Linked DNA regions of Homo sapiens: region 1 is linked to region 2. The links come from fine-mapping of genetic effects on plasma protein levels. A gene starts in region 2. The other region holds a variant in brackets. All regions are shown on one strand. Distances are between the middles of the regions. Region 1 overlaps TCN1 (transcobalamin 1). Region 2 holds the start of TCN1 (transcobalamin 1).

What was found. PIP is the posterior inclusion probability: the model's chance that the variant is causal. Protein levels are from antibody-based Olink assays in UK Biobank. Linkage for the fine-mapping came from a reference panel and not from the study's own genotypes, which makes the PIPs less certain.
Region 1: its variant is fine-mapped to the plasma level of the TCN1 protein (UK Biobank, PIP above 0.99).

The regions. Positions count from the first base shown.
Region 1 is chr11:59,849,156-59,857,500 of GRCh38, forward strand. TCN1 (transcobalamin 1) reads right to left here. Exons shown (of 9, transcript NM_001062.4): 6 at 6,714-6,903; 7 at 5,497-5,680; 8 at 4,048-4,166; 9 at 3,653-3,881. The coding sequence ends at 3,820. Among named protein-coding and RNA genes, the nearest start is that of CBLIF, 7.8 kb to the left of the region's middle. The variant A/G (reference allele first, on the strand shown) is at 3,711.
Region 2 is chr11:59,863,016-59,871,360 of GRCh38, forward strand. TCN1 (transcobalamin 1) reads right to left here and starts at 3,472. Exons shown (of 9, transcript NM_001062.4): 1 at 3,377-3,472; 2 at 892-1,071. The coding sequence starts at 3,455.

The DNA.
Region 1 (8,345 bases), 14 kb before region 2:
AATTAGTGGTAATCTGTTACAGCAACAATAAGAATCTAATACAGGATTATGAGTACAGTATGGTGCTGACTTTGCATTCCAGAGCCTGCTCCTGATCGTCCTGAGATGATCCACACACCCTTGGCCTGCCAGCTCTTTAACCACTCACTTCCTTGTATTATAAATTACCATTTACAACCAGGGCTGCTGCAAGATTGATCGTGACACAATTGTTGCAGTTAGTAAATAATTCCCAGAACAGGAACCACACAGGCCATACATTTCTTAACAGGGATATTTTGACAGTCCTTGGTTAACTATTGACTGGGATGATGTGTTCATTTATTTCCTTGTTTCTCCTGTGCCTAATATTTTGGTATCAAAGCACCTAGACTCTCTCTGGACATAAGTGAGGTTTATTTGTGGTGATTATTCTTTGCTGTGGCAGCAAAAGGAAGTTTCTCTCTTCAGACTCAGTTCAGGTTCTGTAATAGTCTCAAGCTGTAGGAGCTTCTTGTAAGGCAAGTGTGGCCAATTAGGTTTCTTATTTTTATTTTTATTTTTATGTTTTTCTGAGATGGAGTCTGGCTGTGTTGCCCAGGCTGGGGTACAATGGTGTGATCTCAGCTCACTGCAACCTCTGCCTCCCGGGTTCAAGTGATTCTCCTGCCTCAGCCTCCTGAGTAGCTGGGATTACAATTGCCTGCCAATATGCCCAGCTAATTTTTGTATTTTTAGTAGAGGTGGGGTTTCGCCATGTTGGCCAGGCTGGTCTCAAACTCTTAACCTCAGTTATCTGCCTGCCTTGGCCTCCCAAAGTACTGGGATTACAGGCATGAGCCACCACGCCTGTCCTCAGAACTAGGTTTCAAGGGCCGATGTTAGTGGAACCCTAAGGGAGTGTTATTTCATGTCTACTTCTGAGATTAAAGGCATTTATATCAGACAGCAATGTTACTTACTACATTATACTTTTTTTTTTTTTGAGACAGAGTCTAGCTCTGTTTCCCAGGCTGGAGTGCAGTGGCGCATTCTCGGCTCACTGCAGCCTCCGCCTCCCAGATTCAAGCGATTCTCCTGCCTTAGCCTCCCGAGTAGTTGGCACTACAGGCGCATGCCACCACACCTTGCTAATTTTTGCATTTTTAGTAGAGACGGGGTTTCACCATGTTGGCCAGGATAGTCTCGATCTCCTGACCTAGTGATCCACCTGCCTCAGCCTCCCAATGTGCTGGGATTACAGGCGTGAGCCACTGCGTCCGGCCTACATTATACTTTAAGACCTCTGGCTGGGAGAAACTAGGCTCTGTCTGTTAGAAATAAATGCTAGTAGTGCTAATTGCTAGTATGCAATTCTGACATTTTGCATATTTCTCACCTTAAACCAGTATCCTTCAATTTCACATAGCTTGTATAGGCTACAAACAGATCTGACGATTAACAGCACCAGGGATCCTGGAAGGGTAACATGGCTCCCAGCTTCTCTAATTTAGCTTTATTATTATTATTATTATTATTGTTATTATATTTTTAATTTTTGTGGGTACACAGTAGGTGTATATATTTTCTAACTTAGCTTTAAAGATGAGACACAGACCCAAGGGATAGAATCCATTTCTGTCCACTCATGAGGGTCATGTGTTACATCCAGTTAATGAAGACCAGGGCAGAGTTGAACCTGAGCATCGAGTATCAATAGCAGAAAGCAGTATGTTGGAAGAGGGTTCAATCTCTGACTGTGAAGCAGTGTCACTGGTGAAGGAGAGGAAGCTAGGATGATTGTGAAGAAAACACAGGAGAAATGAGGAAGACATTGTTAAAATAATTCACCTGGCTGGGCGTGGTGGCTCACGCCTGTAATCCCAGTGCTTTAGGAGGCCAAGGTGGGTGGATCACCTGAGGTTAAGAGTTCGAGACCAGCCTGGCCAACATGGAGAAACCCCACCTCTACTAAAAATACAAAATTAGCTGGGCATGGTGGTGCATGCCTGTAATCCCAGCTACTCAGGAGGCCAAGGCAGGAGAATCACTTGAACCCAGGAGGCGGAGGTTGCGATGAGCCGAGATCACACCATTGCACTCCAGCCTGGGCAACAAGAGCGAAACTCTGTCTAAAAAAAATAATAAAATAAATAATAATTCAACTAATTCTACCTGAAGGCATTTTTCTTTTAAAAATTACTTTATTTTAAACTTTAAGTTCAGGTATACATGTGCAGGTTTGTTGTGTAGGTAAACCCATGACATGGGGGTTTGTTTTACAGATTATTTCATCACCCAGGCATTAAGCCTAGTATCCATTCGTTATTTTTCCTGATCTTCGCCCTCCTCGCCACCCTCCACCCTCTCATAGGCCCCAGTGTGTGTTGTTCCCCTCTATGTGTCCATGTGTTCTCATCATTTAGTTCCCACTTATAAGTGAGAATATGCAGTTTCCTGTGTTAGTTTGCTAAGGATAATGGCCTCTGGCTCCATCCATGTTCCTGCAAAGGATATGATCTCATTTTTTATGGCTGCATAGTATTCCATAGTGTATATGTACTGTGTTTTCTTTAAAAGTCTATCATTGATGGACATTTAGGTTGATTCCATATTTTTGCTATTGTGAATAGTGCTGCAATACACATACACGCGGTTTATATTAGATTTAGATGTAGAATGATTTATAGTCCTTTGGGTATATACCCAGTAATGAGATTGCTGGGTTGAATGGTAGTTCTGTTTTTAGCTCTTTGAGCAATCTCCACACTGCTTTCCCCAGTGGTTGAACTAATTTACACTCCTACCAACAGTGTATGTGTTTCTTTTTCTCCATAACCTCACTAGCATCTGTTATTTTCTGACTTTTTAATAGTAGCCATTGTGACTGGTGTGGCATGGTGTCTCATTGTGGTTTTTATTTGCAGGAAATTACTTTAAATGGGTTACTTTACACTTTACATAAAGTACCTTTTGTCCTTTGGTATCTTAAGTGTCCTTCTAGTTTCTGACTGTACTGCATGTAGCCCAGGTACTCAGTATAAGTACAAGCTCATGCTGCCTTGATGTGATTCAACTTTTTTCCTTTAAGACGTGACTTCTTAGCATGACAAAAATTGATTAGAAAAATAAAAAAGGAAAAAAGTGAATTCTGTGGAAATGAACATGATAAGTGACTTTTTTGCATATGTATTTTGATGACATGAATATTGGGGTGATTTTATGGGGAAATAAAGGGAAAATAAATGTAAGAGAAGAATAAGTGGGACCCAAGGGAGACATCTGGAGGCAGGGGATGAGATTGTTTCTCAAACTACGGGCAGACCTTTTATGTATATGCCTCACGTTTCCCCCTTTCTTCTGAGCAACATGTTTTTTTTACCCACTACCTGTATGAAATCAGTGTGACCAATGGGCTCCTCTCTTGCATCTGGGCCTCAGAGAGCTCAGTCTTTCACAGACTTTCTGCTTGATCTCATTGGTTGTTGCTGCAACATTAGACCTAGAACCTTATCCCCATTTTACCCAGTTGCCCAATGCCACTGAGATAGTTAGTAGGAGAACCTTGAGTAGAACCCCGCTTATTAGACATGTGGTCTCATTTCTTTTCACTTCAGTTTTTCCTTAGGTGGACTTTCCTCTAATACATTTTAAAATCCTTTCAGAATGAACTAATTAGAACATGCTCTTTTTGTATAGTTGTTAATCTTTCAACAACTTTTATTGAACATGTAGAGAGAGAAGGGGAGGTT[A/G]TTAACTCTCCTGCTCGTACTGGGATAAATGAAGAAGAAGGCATAAGGACAATAAACATGGAACTCCACTGCAAATGGATTTTATGCAGCTGAGGAAAGTTTGGGCTTATTAGTATTTGCTCCAGCGAACCTCCAAGTTTTCTCCATTGCGGACAACGTAACTACCAGCTCCTGAAAAGGAAGAAGAAAGAGAACTGGGTCAAATGATTTGGCCACTAAATCACCAAATAATGGATGTCATCTCTACTAACCCCTTGGCCCAATCCCCACAGAGGCTCACACCCCTCTCCATTTGGGCATTTTTAGCATGGGTCTTTTTGGCATGTCTCTCCCTTACCTTGGCTCAGTGGTTCGCCTCCACTCAGAAGTTCCCAGTAGGTTCTGTCATTATTGTTGGCACATAGGCCCTGAATACAGGTGATATAGGGCCCCCATGAGCGCTCCTCCATTGTGAAACTGTGGGTGACAGCAAGTAGGTTACTGGAACTTAGAATTGTCAAAGGAAACCAACAATAGGCATTTCTCAAACTTTAATGTACCTGAGAATCACTTGATGACATTATAAAAATGCAGATTTCCTGGCCCTATCCATAGATATTTTTATTTTTAGATATGAGCTGGGGATCAGGAATCTGCATGCTTTATAAACACTCCAGCTGATTCTAATGCAGGCACTCCACACTCCATGCTAAATTAGAGAAATGATGCTCATGGTTTCTGCTCTCCCCACCTGCCATGGTAGATAGGTTTCAGATAACAGCTTCAACCTTCCACCCCAAGATAGTAACTGCTAAAGATACTGATTCAGTAGAAGAACATATGATCCTCATGTGCTAGAGACACCATAAGTTACTGAGTTTTCCCTTAGAAAAGAGGAACAGGAAAGGATAATTTGATATTTCATATTGTGTTTATTAAAAAGTGACAGGTCAGTATCTGTTTTATATTCCGTAGTCATTTTTCTACCTCCCTTAAAGCCCTTGAGGGTAGCCTTTATAATGTATATTATATTATTATTCTGATTTTCTTTATAGCATCCTACACTGTGTTGTTAGATATGATAAATAACTGTCAACTAGAGTTAAGGAGCCAAATAAGTCATACTTTTCAGAGGCAAAGCCATTATTTTAATTTTAATACTTGACCTCCTTGACCAGTTACTTTAGTTTGGGGATCTATGAGTTTTCTGAAAGCGAGGGCAGGGAGAAGCTTCAGGGTATCTGTGAAACCCTCAGTTGAAATGCTAAATTTGGCAGTGGCTCATGCCTGTAATCCCAGCACTTTGGGAGGCTGAGGTGGGCAGATCTCTTGAGCCCAGGAATTCAAGACCAGCCTGTGCAACATAGTAAGATGCTGTCTGTAAAATAAATAAATAAACAAATGCCAATTTTTGTGTGTATGTTCATTTTTTTCCTGGATGAACATTCATTACATTCACTTGATTTTCAAAGGGGTCCGTGATTCAAAAAGAGTTAAGAACCACTGTTCTAGATCTCAAATGTTTGACTTTAGAAGTTACATTTATTGCAAGAATTTTACTGAAATAAGAGAGAGCCCTGAGATTCATTAATTTATTTAGCGAACATTAATTTACTACCTATTATGTGCAAGAAGATGAAATACCTCACCTCCTATTTTAAACTCCTGCTGTGAGATGTAGATGGACAGCAAAGCTACTGACCCAGAAGCATTTTAAATATACTTTGTATTTAGGTGCAAATGCATTCTTACTGCATCTTTAGAAATGACAGCAAACATCTTAACCTTAGGTTAGGTACAGACCTACCCAAATATAGTATCATTCATTTTCTGGGCTTTCTCCATCACACTGAGGAAGACAGAACCATTTAGCACAGTGACATTGGTGAAATATGTTTCATTGATTCTCACAGAGTAATTGACGGAGATATATGATTGTGAGTCAGGAGGTGTCACAGTTATAGGCTCATCAGCGGAGATGTTGAAGTTACCTGGCAGAGACAGAAAAGCCCAGAGCAATATTCAGAAAAATAAAAATGATATTAGAGTTTGCAGACCTACTCAACCCCTATCCAAGGACTCCTTGCCTTTATGCAGACACGGATTTACTATAAGGAGCAATTATCATCACTCAAGGGGCAAATTTCTCATATAACTAAAGCAGAAACTAAGACCCAAACTCACCAGCTTGTGAATGTTGGCACTTGGCTCAACTCCCAGCTGTTTAAGCAATTCAGTTGCTCTAACTTCTGTTTCTCACAGAGGATCCTGATTTTTTTTTTCTTTTTTTGCCTTGGTACAGCATACAATAATGCTTGTCTTTTCTCCTTTTTATTGCTTAACGTTTATTGAAAACATATGAATTGCCAGGCACTATACTAATCATTTTACATGGATTGTCTCATTCAATCTTTACAAAAACCTATGTTAGGTACTGTCCTTGTTCCCAACTTTTACATTAGAAAACTGAAGCTTAGAGGTTAAACATTTTGTCCAAGTTTCCTAAACCTGTGAGTGGCTGAACCAGGAATGGACAGAGATATAAGACAATGTCTCCTTTCCTTCTACCTGGTTGCAAGGTCATTTTTTGAATAAGTAATGCATGCTACAATTTTTGAATACTGGCATATCACTTCCACACAGATGTCTCATTTCCCTAAGGGATCACTCACTGTGCAAAGTCAGAGTCACGGTACCAATACTCCATACTTTATTTAGGATGAGAATGATGCTCAGATCCTTCTATATCCAACAGTCAGAAAATACACCTTTGGAGATAGACATTATTTAATCAGGTCTGCCTTGTTAATGTTTGAACTAAGAGGGACATCTAGCACTCAGTTAAGAACAAATCCTCAGGTGACTGTAAACCCTGGTAACATGAGGAAAACTGAATTCTCTCTGGCAACTGTTATGTTTTGGAGGTTTATCTGGTCACTTTTGGTTTCAAAGGACACCTGAATCTCACATGCTTTGGGTGCTATGGTGAAAAGCGAAACAGTGTGCTCTCTTTAATGCTTATACCTGAAGCAGAGACGCAAGAAGAGTCTTTGTTAATATCCAAGAAGGTCTTTCCCATCAGGGCAGGTAAGACCTGGGCTGCAGCGTTTGGATTGCTGAATGCTCCTTGAGAAATTTCCGTGAGCACTGTATTCAGAGTTTGTTGGCAATTCCAGTCATTTTCATTATAATAGTCTGATGATACAAAGAGGGCCTAATGAGGCAGGGTGGGGTGGGGGGGTGATGAGAGATAAAGAGAGACAGAGAGAGAATATGAGACACTTCAAATAAGGGGGAAGCCTTATCTATAACTATATATGTAACTAATTCAGTATTAATTGAACATTGACTACCTAGGAAGCACCTCAGATAACTCAGTTATCTTTCTTGTTATCCAGAAGCTTATAAACTAGTTTGGGCAGGGAGGTTGGAACTGCTTAATAACACAAGCTATAATAGTTCCAATGAAGGCAGACTTTGCCACATTCATTTCTGTATCCCAGTGCTGGGAAATACCTGTCATATAGGAGACACTCAATAAATATTAACAAACTACTGTAAAAGGAGTTGCCAGAGGAATGCCCTAAGGGATGCATCTAGTGGGATGCCTCTTTCAAAAGAGGAGAGGAGCTCACAAACATTTAATGAAGCTAAAAAAAAAAAAGCTTCCTGGAGAAGGTGGTATTTGAGTTAGGCCTTGGAGAGTAGGATAGAGCACTCAAGAGGAACAACATGAACAAAGGTGTTAGGTAGGAATGGCCAGGACATGACCTGGCAATGATGACAGTATCTGCATTTTAGCAAAGTTCCTCAGGGGATTCCTCCTGGTTTAGGAGAACTGATGTATGGGGAACATTGGAGGCAACTGTGGAAAAACAGGCTGGAGAAGGAAGTTGGGCTAGACTAGTAGATGCTTGAATTTTATGATGAGATGTCTGACCTCATTTGATTGACAACGATGAGGAGGTGTCTGACATTATTTGATTGACAATGGGGAGTCTAATTGTTCATTAAACAGAAACTCTCCTGGCAGCAGAATGTAAGCTTGATTGAAGGGGCAGAATTGTGAGGTAGTAAAAGTTAGGAGGGCATTGGGGTAAGCAAGACAGGAACTAAGGTGGGTCGGACTTGAACATGCTGCTCTGTAGTTTCCCAGGGATGGACAGTTCCTGTTTTCATCTTTTCTTGGAGGTTCTTAAGCTAACCAAGTTGTCCACAAGCATTTGTGGGATATTAAGAAAAAAGAAAAACTGGTCATAGTACATTTCCTCTTAAGACACGTCAATAAATGTTATTCACATACATAACAATAAATTAAATGTTATTAATATTTAAAAATACCCAACAATGTGTTGTAGGCAATTAGCTCTTGATCCTACTGTGAATTTGTATCACCTGTAGGGCTTTTAAACCAGAGCAAGGCCCAGGCTCCACCTCTAAATTTCTGTACTACCTGGCTGGTGTGGGCCTGGGTATTAGTGTTTTCTAAGAGCTCCTTCAGGTGATTCAAATATGCAATGAAAATGGGAAAGCAGTTTATATTCAGTTCAAACTTAGTAAGGCAATCAACAACATAAATAGTAACAACAACAATACAGATAACCTTATGACTGGACCCGTGCTTACACCTCCAGCCTCCTGTTATGTTTCCCAAGG
Region 2 (8,345 bases):
GTCCTGAATACTATAGGCAATTGTAGCCCAATAGTATTTGTGTATCTAAACATATCCAAGCACAGAAAAGGTACAATAAAAATACACTATTAAAATCTTGTGGGACCACCGTCATATATATTCATCATTATGTGATGCATTCCTGTATGAATATTTGATTCCTCTCTTCTTTATCCTCAAAGCAGAGCCTTTTAGAGCAGTACTGTATAAATGCAAACTAAATCTTTGTCTTTTCCATAAAAATCACAGAATCGTTTTGGAATCATACAATCCTTATGAAAGTGAAAAAGAGGAAAAATAGATAAACAACAAGATCTTGGGTTTTTTTTTCTTTGTGGTACCAGCTTGCTAGGATAGTAATTCTTGATTTTTAATGTTCTGCCTTTTAGAGTATCCAAACTCTCAGGATTCTCATAATTCTTATAATAATATTATGAGGTAGGTAAGAGTGGCTTCTTTTCCCCTTATACTAATTAGAAAACTGAGGCTCAGTATTAACATGACTGGTTCAAGGCCCACCCATACCTAGTTCAAATCTGGGTTGTTCCATGGTTGCCTTTCCATCACCAGCTTTCTTAGTTATGATCTGTATTCCCATGTGGTTGTGAACTAAGCTAGCTTATATAACAGCATTAATGGATAAAAATCCATAGCTTTTGTTTGTGGCTTCTTGAAGAAAAGTGGTTTTTAAGACCAAAAGAAGCAAGACCTAGCTCTAGGGTGAATGGCATGGGATTGTATTTTGGGCATGTTTCTGTTACCTCAAGTTTGGTACCATTAGAAGGGATGTAGCAGGGATACTTTGGATGCATAATTTTTTAGGATTAGTTGCAGATAATCTTTAAATAGGTAGATTTTTTTCTAAATCTTCCAGAATATACAGCAACTTACATCTGCTTTTCACATTGTATTTGATTTGTTGGATCATCTTTTGCATCAGGGTTTGGATCTGGATTCCAACAAGTTTGAGGGACAACACAACATTGACAGCGCTGGTTCCCCTGTTATAGTTTGACTGGATCATTGTATTCAACAGAGGTTTTAGGCGGATGTAGTTTTCTTCACTTACCTCTGTGGCAGAGAAGGAAGGAAATAAGAAACACATACTCAGAAAATAGTAAGACTTGCAGCAGGGGTTATATAAAAATATTTAGTAACAGATATGGCACAGACCTAGACCAATCCAGTGGCTGCAGACTGTGTTGGTGGAATAATACAAAGGTGGGTCTTGAACCCACCCCCATGCCAGACATTACTCCTTTAACAACCAACATGAAAATGTTTTAATATTTTAACAACTGGTGCAGACTTATCATTGTGTACTGGCAGACTCCTGCCTGGGAAATCTAGCATCATTCCCTAATTTTGTATATGAAGCTTAGATAGATTGTCCTTAAAGAAACTTCCATAATTGGAGGCTGAGCTGAAACTAGACTACATGTCTTCTGACTCTCAGTAAGCAGGACTTTCTACTTCCTGGATTCAGTTCTTTCCTTCTCCATCTTCTAAATCAACTGGGTTAATGTTGAGAAAATGCAGGTAATAATTCTGTGTTATACTGGTGATTGACCCCAAAACTTCATTGTCTGATTACCCAGCTGGCTGGGCATCGAGATCATTATTTAGCATTATGCAGCCTGTAAAAAACTCTCCAGTTTTAGCCTACAATATGCCCCAATTCCAGAGATGGAGGGAAGTCACATTATACTGTGGAAGTAGGAAAATCCATAGCTCCCAAGGAAATAGAGGAGAATAAAAAGATTTACTATTTATTTAAACACAGGACACTTTGTCAATGTATTTTTCCATAATCTTGAGGAGTAGCCCCAAATCCTACATATCTCCAGATTATCTAATGGATTAGTGGGAGAGTGAGAAGAACATGAGGTTTGGATTCAGATTTTGGCCACATTTTGTGCTCCTTAACTTATGACTGTGGATAATAACTTATGTAACTTGTTTTACTCTTAGTTTTCTCATTTAAAAATTGTGGCTGTTAACACTTACCTTACAGATATTGGACAAGAAACCACCGAATAAACTGTAAAATGCTGCACATACTATTATTTCCAGCTCAACTGGAGTTTTTATCACTATACTTGAGAATCAAGGAAATGTAATTTCTCTTGCCCAGTTTTCTTTACTTTAAAAGAATGAGTCAAGAAGATCTGAATAGAGTGATTGTAGAAAGGTCATGGTTTGTTGCAGACACAATGGAACAATTGTGAGTCAGTTCTCTGAGATTTTGTGGAACCATCCAGCTCAGCAGATTTTCTGGCCCTGAAACAGACTTTTTAGTTCCTGATCAACAACTCAAATCAGCTTCCTTGAGTCTCAAAGATAAATTTAATTATTATCATTATTATTTAAAATGAATTGAAAGCTAAAACCTACATAGCCATTCCCTATTCTTAGGATCCAACAGGGGAAATGTCAAGCCAAGAAGAAAAATCAGAGTCAGAAGAGTCTATGCTTTAGCCTGTATGTATACAAGCCTGTCTTCTGTGGTGTTCTCTTCTTACTGGTTAGAGAGCACAGATAGTACCACCTAGTAATCTTTGGACTGGTTTGAAGCTCAATTTCAGAGTAAAGTCTCACAAAAGAGAATTCATGCACTTGAGAACTGCACCAGACTTCATGAGATAATTTGCTTCAATAGTCTCCCCTCATTATCCTTTATTTATGAATGAAGCTAAAGAAATTCAGAAATGTTGGGTCATTCAATAACTAAGGGATCAAACTAAACCTGAATTTAGTTTTCCCTTCTCTTACTTTAAAGTTCTTTTACAGAACCACACAATCTCTGGGGTCAACACCCATGCAAGAGATGATGGAACTTTATCCCATGTGTCCTGGGAAAGAGTTGAAGGAAGGTGGACATGCAACTTGGAACATCTAAACTCACTCATGACAAGACAGCAGTCATCACTATTTGAAAGAGATTATTATTTTTTTCTATGTAGTTACAAGGGGTTAACCCAAAAATCATGCATTGAATTTCAGGGAAAAAAGATTGCATATCAAGACCAAAAGATAACTTTCCATGATCTAGAAAAGTTTCTGGGAGCATAAATTTTCTGTCATTGAAAAGTCACATGAATAGGGAGTTACTTGGTAGGGATGCTGTGCTAGAGAGGATCTGAGCATAGAAAGAGCAGTTAGGCAAGTGAATACACAATCTATAATTCCTCTTACAACAACATGCATTGTGAGACTTTCCTCACCATCTCCTGCCACCCTTTTCATCATTCATGGAGTCCAACCACATACGAAACTGGAATGGGATCTTTTCTCAGGTAACTCTACATAGAGTCTCTTGTCAACAGTTTTCAGTAGACTATCACTCTAGAGTAATTTTAGCTCAAAGTTTACTCACCACAAATCTCGCATAGTTGGCTTGGAATAAAAGAAAACAGTAAGAGCCCCACTAGGGGCAGCTGGTGTGACTGTCTCATCTCTCCAACAGTGTACCAGAATGTTGATGAATTGGCTGGCTATTTATTAAGTGATGGGCAGAAGGTAATGAGAGCTCCTCCTTCAGGTTGCCTCAGCCTCTTTTCACTCAAGCAAATATTGAGCAATGTCAGGAGGTGTGGTCAAGTGTATTTGTCCATGTGATGTAATAAATAAGGAAGAAGACTTGAAGGATGTGGTTAGGGAGAATAAGGCAATAACTTTCCTTTGTCTCCTGTCCTAAACCTTCGGGTTTCATATCTATTATTTGCCTTCCGTGCAGTGAAGATATATTAGGCAAATGACTGTTTCCTATAATCTTTCCTTTTTTTTCCGTTTCACTTTATGTTTTATGTTTCCTGATAAAGTAGATTTGATCATGCAAACACATACAACATATAAAAATGGAAGTAAAAGAAGACATCCAAATGGGAAGCAGGCATATGAAAAAGTGCTTGAAAAGGTGCTTAACATCATTGATCATCAGATAAATGGAAATCAAAGCTACAATGAGATATCCTCTCATCTCAGCTAAAAATGGCTTTATTCAAAACACAGGCAATAACAAATGCTGGCACGGATGTAGAGAAAAGGGAAGCCTTGTACACTGTTGGTGGGAATGTAAATTAGTACAATCACTATGGAGAACAGTTTGGAGCTTCCTCAAAAAACTAAACATAGAGCTACCATATGATCCAGCAATCCCACTGCTGGCTATATACCCAAAAGAAAGAAGACCAGTATATTGAAGAGATATCTGCACTCCCATGTTTGTTGCAGCACTGTTTACAATAACCAAGATTTGGAAGCAAGCTAAGTGTCTATCAACAGATAAATGAACACAGCAAATGTACATATACACAATGGAGTACTATTCAGCCATATAAAAGAATGAAATCCTGTCAGTTGTGACAAAATGGATGGAACTGGAGATAATTATGTTAAGTGAAATAAGCCAGGCACAGAAAGACATACATTGCATGTTCTCACTTATTTGTGGGATCTAAAAATCAAAACAATTGAATTCATAGAGATAGAGAATGAAAAGATGGTTACTGGGGGCTGGGAAGGCTAGTGGTGGGAAGGAGATGCGGAGGGTTAATGGGTACAAAATATTGGAAAGAATGAATAAGACCTACTATTGGTAGCATAACAGGGTGACTATAGTCAATAATAATTTAATTGTACATTTTAAATAACTAATAGTATAACTGGATTGTTTGTAACGTAAAGGATAAATGCTTGACAGGATGAATACCCCCTTCTCTATGATGTGATTATTACGCATTGCATGCCTGTATCAAAACATTTCATGAGCCCCATAAATATATACACCTACTATGTACCTACAAAAATTGAAATAAAAAAATTTAAAAACGGAAGTAAAAGTTGTAAGTCTGAAATTGAAGCAGGCAGTATTGGAGAACCCAGCACATGAGGGGATCTTTGGCATAGTGGTTTCCAAACTATGATTTTTCTCCTAAGATAGATTCCATGAGAGTTTCCTAACCAAGGAGGAAAACCAGAGAGCTATACATCAAATGTGAATTTCTGCCCTGCCAGGGCAGTTGCTACATGTGAGAAGTGTTGCCTATCACAGTTCTTCTGAGAACTATTAGAGAATACTGTCAGCCTAGCTAAGGATGTCATGACTTAATGAGCCACTATTTGCATTGTACCTCTGTGATGGTTAATTTTCTGTGTCAACTTGACTGGCACCTGAGTGCCCAGATTAAACACTATTTCTCGATGTATCTGTGAGGGTGTTTCCAGATAGGATTAGCATTTTAATTGGTGGACTCTGGAAAGTAGAATGCCGTCTCCAATGTAGGTGTGCATCAATCAATCTATTGAGACCCTGAATAGAATAAAATGGTGAAGGAAGGGGGAATTCACCCTTTTTTTGCTTCCTGCCAGCCTGTTTGAGCTAGGACATCTTATCTTCTCCAGCCCTCAAACTGAGATTTACACCATCGGCTCCCCTGGTTCTTGGGCTTTCAGTTTGGCCTGAATCACTCCACTGACTTTTACTGCATGCAGACAGTAGACTGTGGGACTTCTTAGCCTCCATAAGGGCATGAATCAACTCCTTGGAATAAATCTCTTTCTCTCTCTCACATATTTATATAAAACTTATGTGGAAACCACCATTCTACTCTCTGTTTCCATGTATTTGATAATTTTTAGAATCTACATATAAATGAGATCATAGTATTTGTCTGTGACTTATTTCATTTAGCATGATATTCTTCAGGTTCATCCATGCTGTCTCAAAGGGCACTATTTCCTTCTTTTTTATGGCTGAATACTATTCTATTATATAAATATAAATATATATATACACACACACACATATATGTGTGTGTGTATATAAATCACAATTTTTATCCCTTCATCCATCAACAGATATGTAGGTTGTTTCTATGTCTTTGATATTGTGAATAATGCTGCAATGAACATGGGAGTACATATTTTATATAATATATATTTTTGTTTGTTTGTTTGTTTGTTTGTTTGTTTTTGAGACAGAGTTTCTCTCTTGTCGCCCAAGCTGGAGTGCAATGGTGCAATCTCAGCTCACTGGAAACTCCACCTCCCGGGTCCAAGTGATTTTCCTGCCTCAGCCTCCAGAGTAGCTGGGATTACAGGTATCTGCCACCACACCGGCTAACTTTTCTATTTTTTTTTAGTAGAGACAGGGTTTCAACATGTTGATCAGGCTGGTCTTAAACTCCTGACCTCAGGTGATCCACCCACCTCAGCCTCCCAAAGTGCTGCGATTACAGGCGTGAGCCACCGTGCCCATTCGGGAGTACATATATTTCTTTGAAACACTGCTTTTGCTTCCTTTGGATATGTACCCAGAATTAAGATTGTTGGATCATATTGCAGTTCCATTTATAATTTTTTGAAGAACCACCACACTGTCTTCCATAATGGTTGTGCAAATTTACATTCTGCAAACACAAAGGATTCTCTTTTCTCTACATCCTCATCCATACTTTGTTATCTTTTGTCTTTTTGATAATAGTCACCCTAACAGGTATAAGGTGATGTGATTATTCTGATTTGAATTTCTCTGATGATTAGTGATATTGTGCATGTTTTCTCATGCCTGTTTGCCATTTTTATGTCTTCTTTGGAAAATGTTGAGGTCCTTAGCCCATTTTAAAATCAGGTTATTTGTTTTGTTTTTGTTTTCATTTTGCTATTGAATTGCATGGTTCTTACATATTTTGGATATTAATCTATTTTCAGATATAGGTTCGCAAATATTTTCTCAAATATTCCACAGCAACTTGGATGGAGCTGGAGGCAATTATTCTAAGCAACACAGGAGTAGAAAACCAAAAAAAATATTTTCTCACTTATTATTAACATTATTTCATTCCTTTTAATGGCTCAGTAGTAGAATTCTTCTATACCCAATTTGTTGAGAGTTTTTTTTTATCATGAAAGGATGCTAAATTTTTTTGATTGATTTTTTTTTTTTTGCTTTTTTTTTAATGTGCTGTTGAATTTGGTTTGCTAGTATTTTGTTGAGGATTTTTGCATCTATGTTTATTATGGGTATTGGCCTGTGATTTTTTTTTTTTTTTTGGTAGTGTCCTTATCTGGCTTTGGTATTAGGGTAATACTCATCTTGTAAAATGAGTTTGGAAATATTCTTTCTACAATATTTTGGGACAGTTTGTGAGGAATTGCCATTAATTCTTCTTTAGGTATTTGGTTGAATTCACCAGTGAAACATCTGGTCCTAGGCTTTTCTTTGTAGGGAGGTTTTTGATTGCTGATTCAGTCCCCTTATTTATATTTTTGGTCTGTTCAGATTTTCTATGTCTTCATGATTCATTGTTGGCACATTGTGTGTTTCTAGGAATTTATGCATTTCTTCTAGGTTATCCCATTTGCTGGCATATAATTGTTCATAGTAGTCTCTTATGATTCTTTGTATTTCTGTGATAGCAGTTGTAATGTCTTCACTTCTTTCATTTATAATTTTACTTATTTGAGTTTTCTCTCTTTTTTCTTGGTTAGTCTAGCTAAAGGTTTGTCGATTTTTTTTTATCTTTTCCGAAAACCAACTTTTAGTTTTGTTGATCTTTTCCATTGTTTTTCTATTCTCTATTTTATTTGTTTCTGCTTTGATCTTTGTTGTTTCCTTCTTTCTGATAACTTTGGGTTTAGATTATTCTTTTTCTAGTTCCTTAATGTTTAAACTTAGTTTGTTCATTTGAAATCTTTATTTTTCCTTAATCTAGACATTTATAACTATGAATTTTCCTCTCAGTACTGCTTTTGCTGTATCCTATATGTTTTCAGATATTGAGTTTACCTTTTCATTTGTCTCAAGATACTTTTTACTTCCTCATTAATTTCCTCTTTGGCTCCTTGATTGTTCAGGAGTGAATTATCTAATTTCCATGTATTTGTAAATGTTCCAATTTTTCTCACATTATTGATTTCCAGTTTCATACCATTGGGGTCAGAAAAGATACTTGATATAATTTCAATATTCTTAAATTTGTTAACACTTATTTTGTGACTTAATGTGATCTATCCTGGAGAATGTTTTATATGTGCTTGAGAAGAATGTGTACTCCCCTGCTGTTGGATGGAATGTTCTGTATATGTCTGTTAGGTCCATTTGGTCTAAGTATTGTTCAAATATGGTAGTTCCTTATTGATTTTCTGTCTGGATTATCTATCCATTGTTGAGTGTGGGGTATTAAAGTCACCTCTGTTACTGTTTTGCTGTTTATTTTTCACATTAGTTCTGTTAATATTTGCTTTAAGCACCCAATGTTGGGTACATAAATATTTATAATTTTTATATCTTTTTGATGAATTGGCTCCTTTATCATTATATAATGATTTTCTTTGTCTCTTGT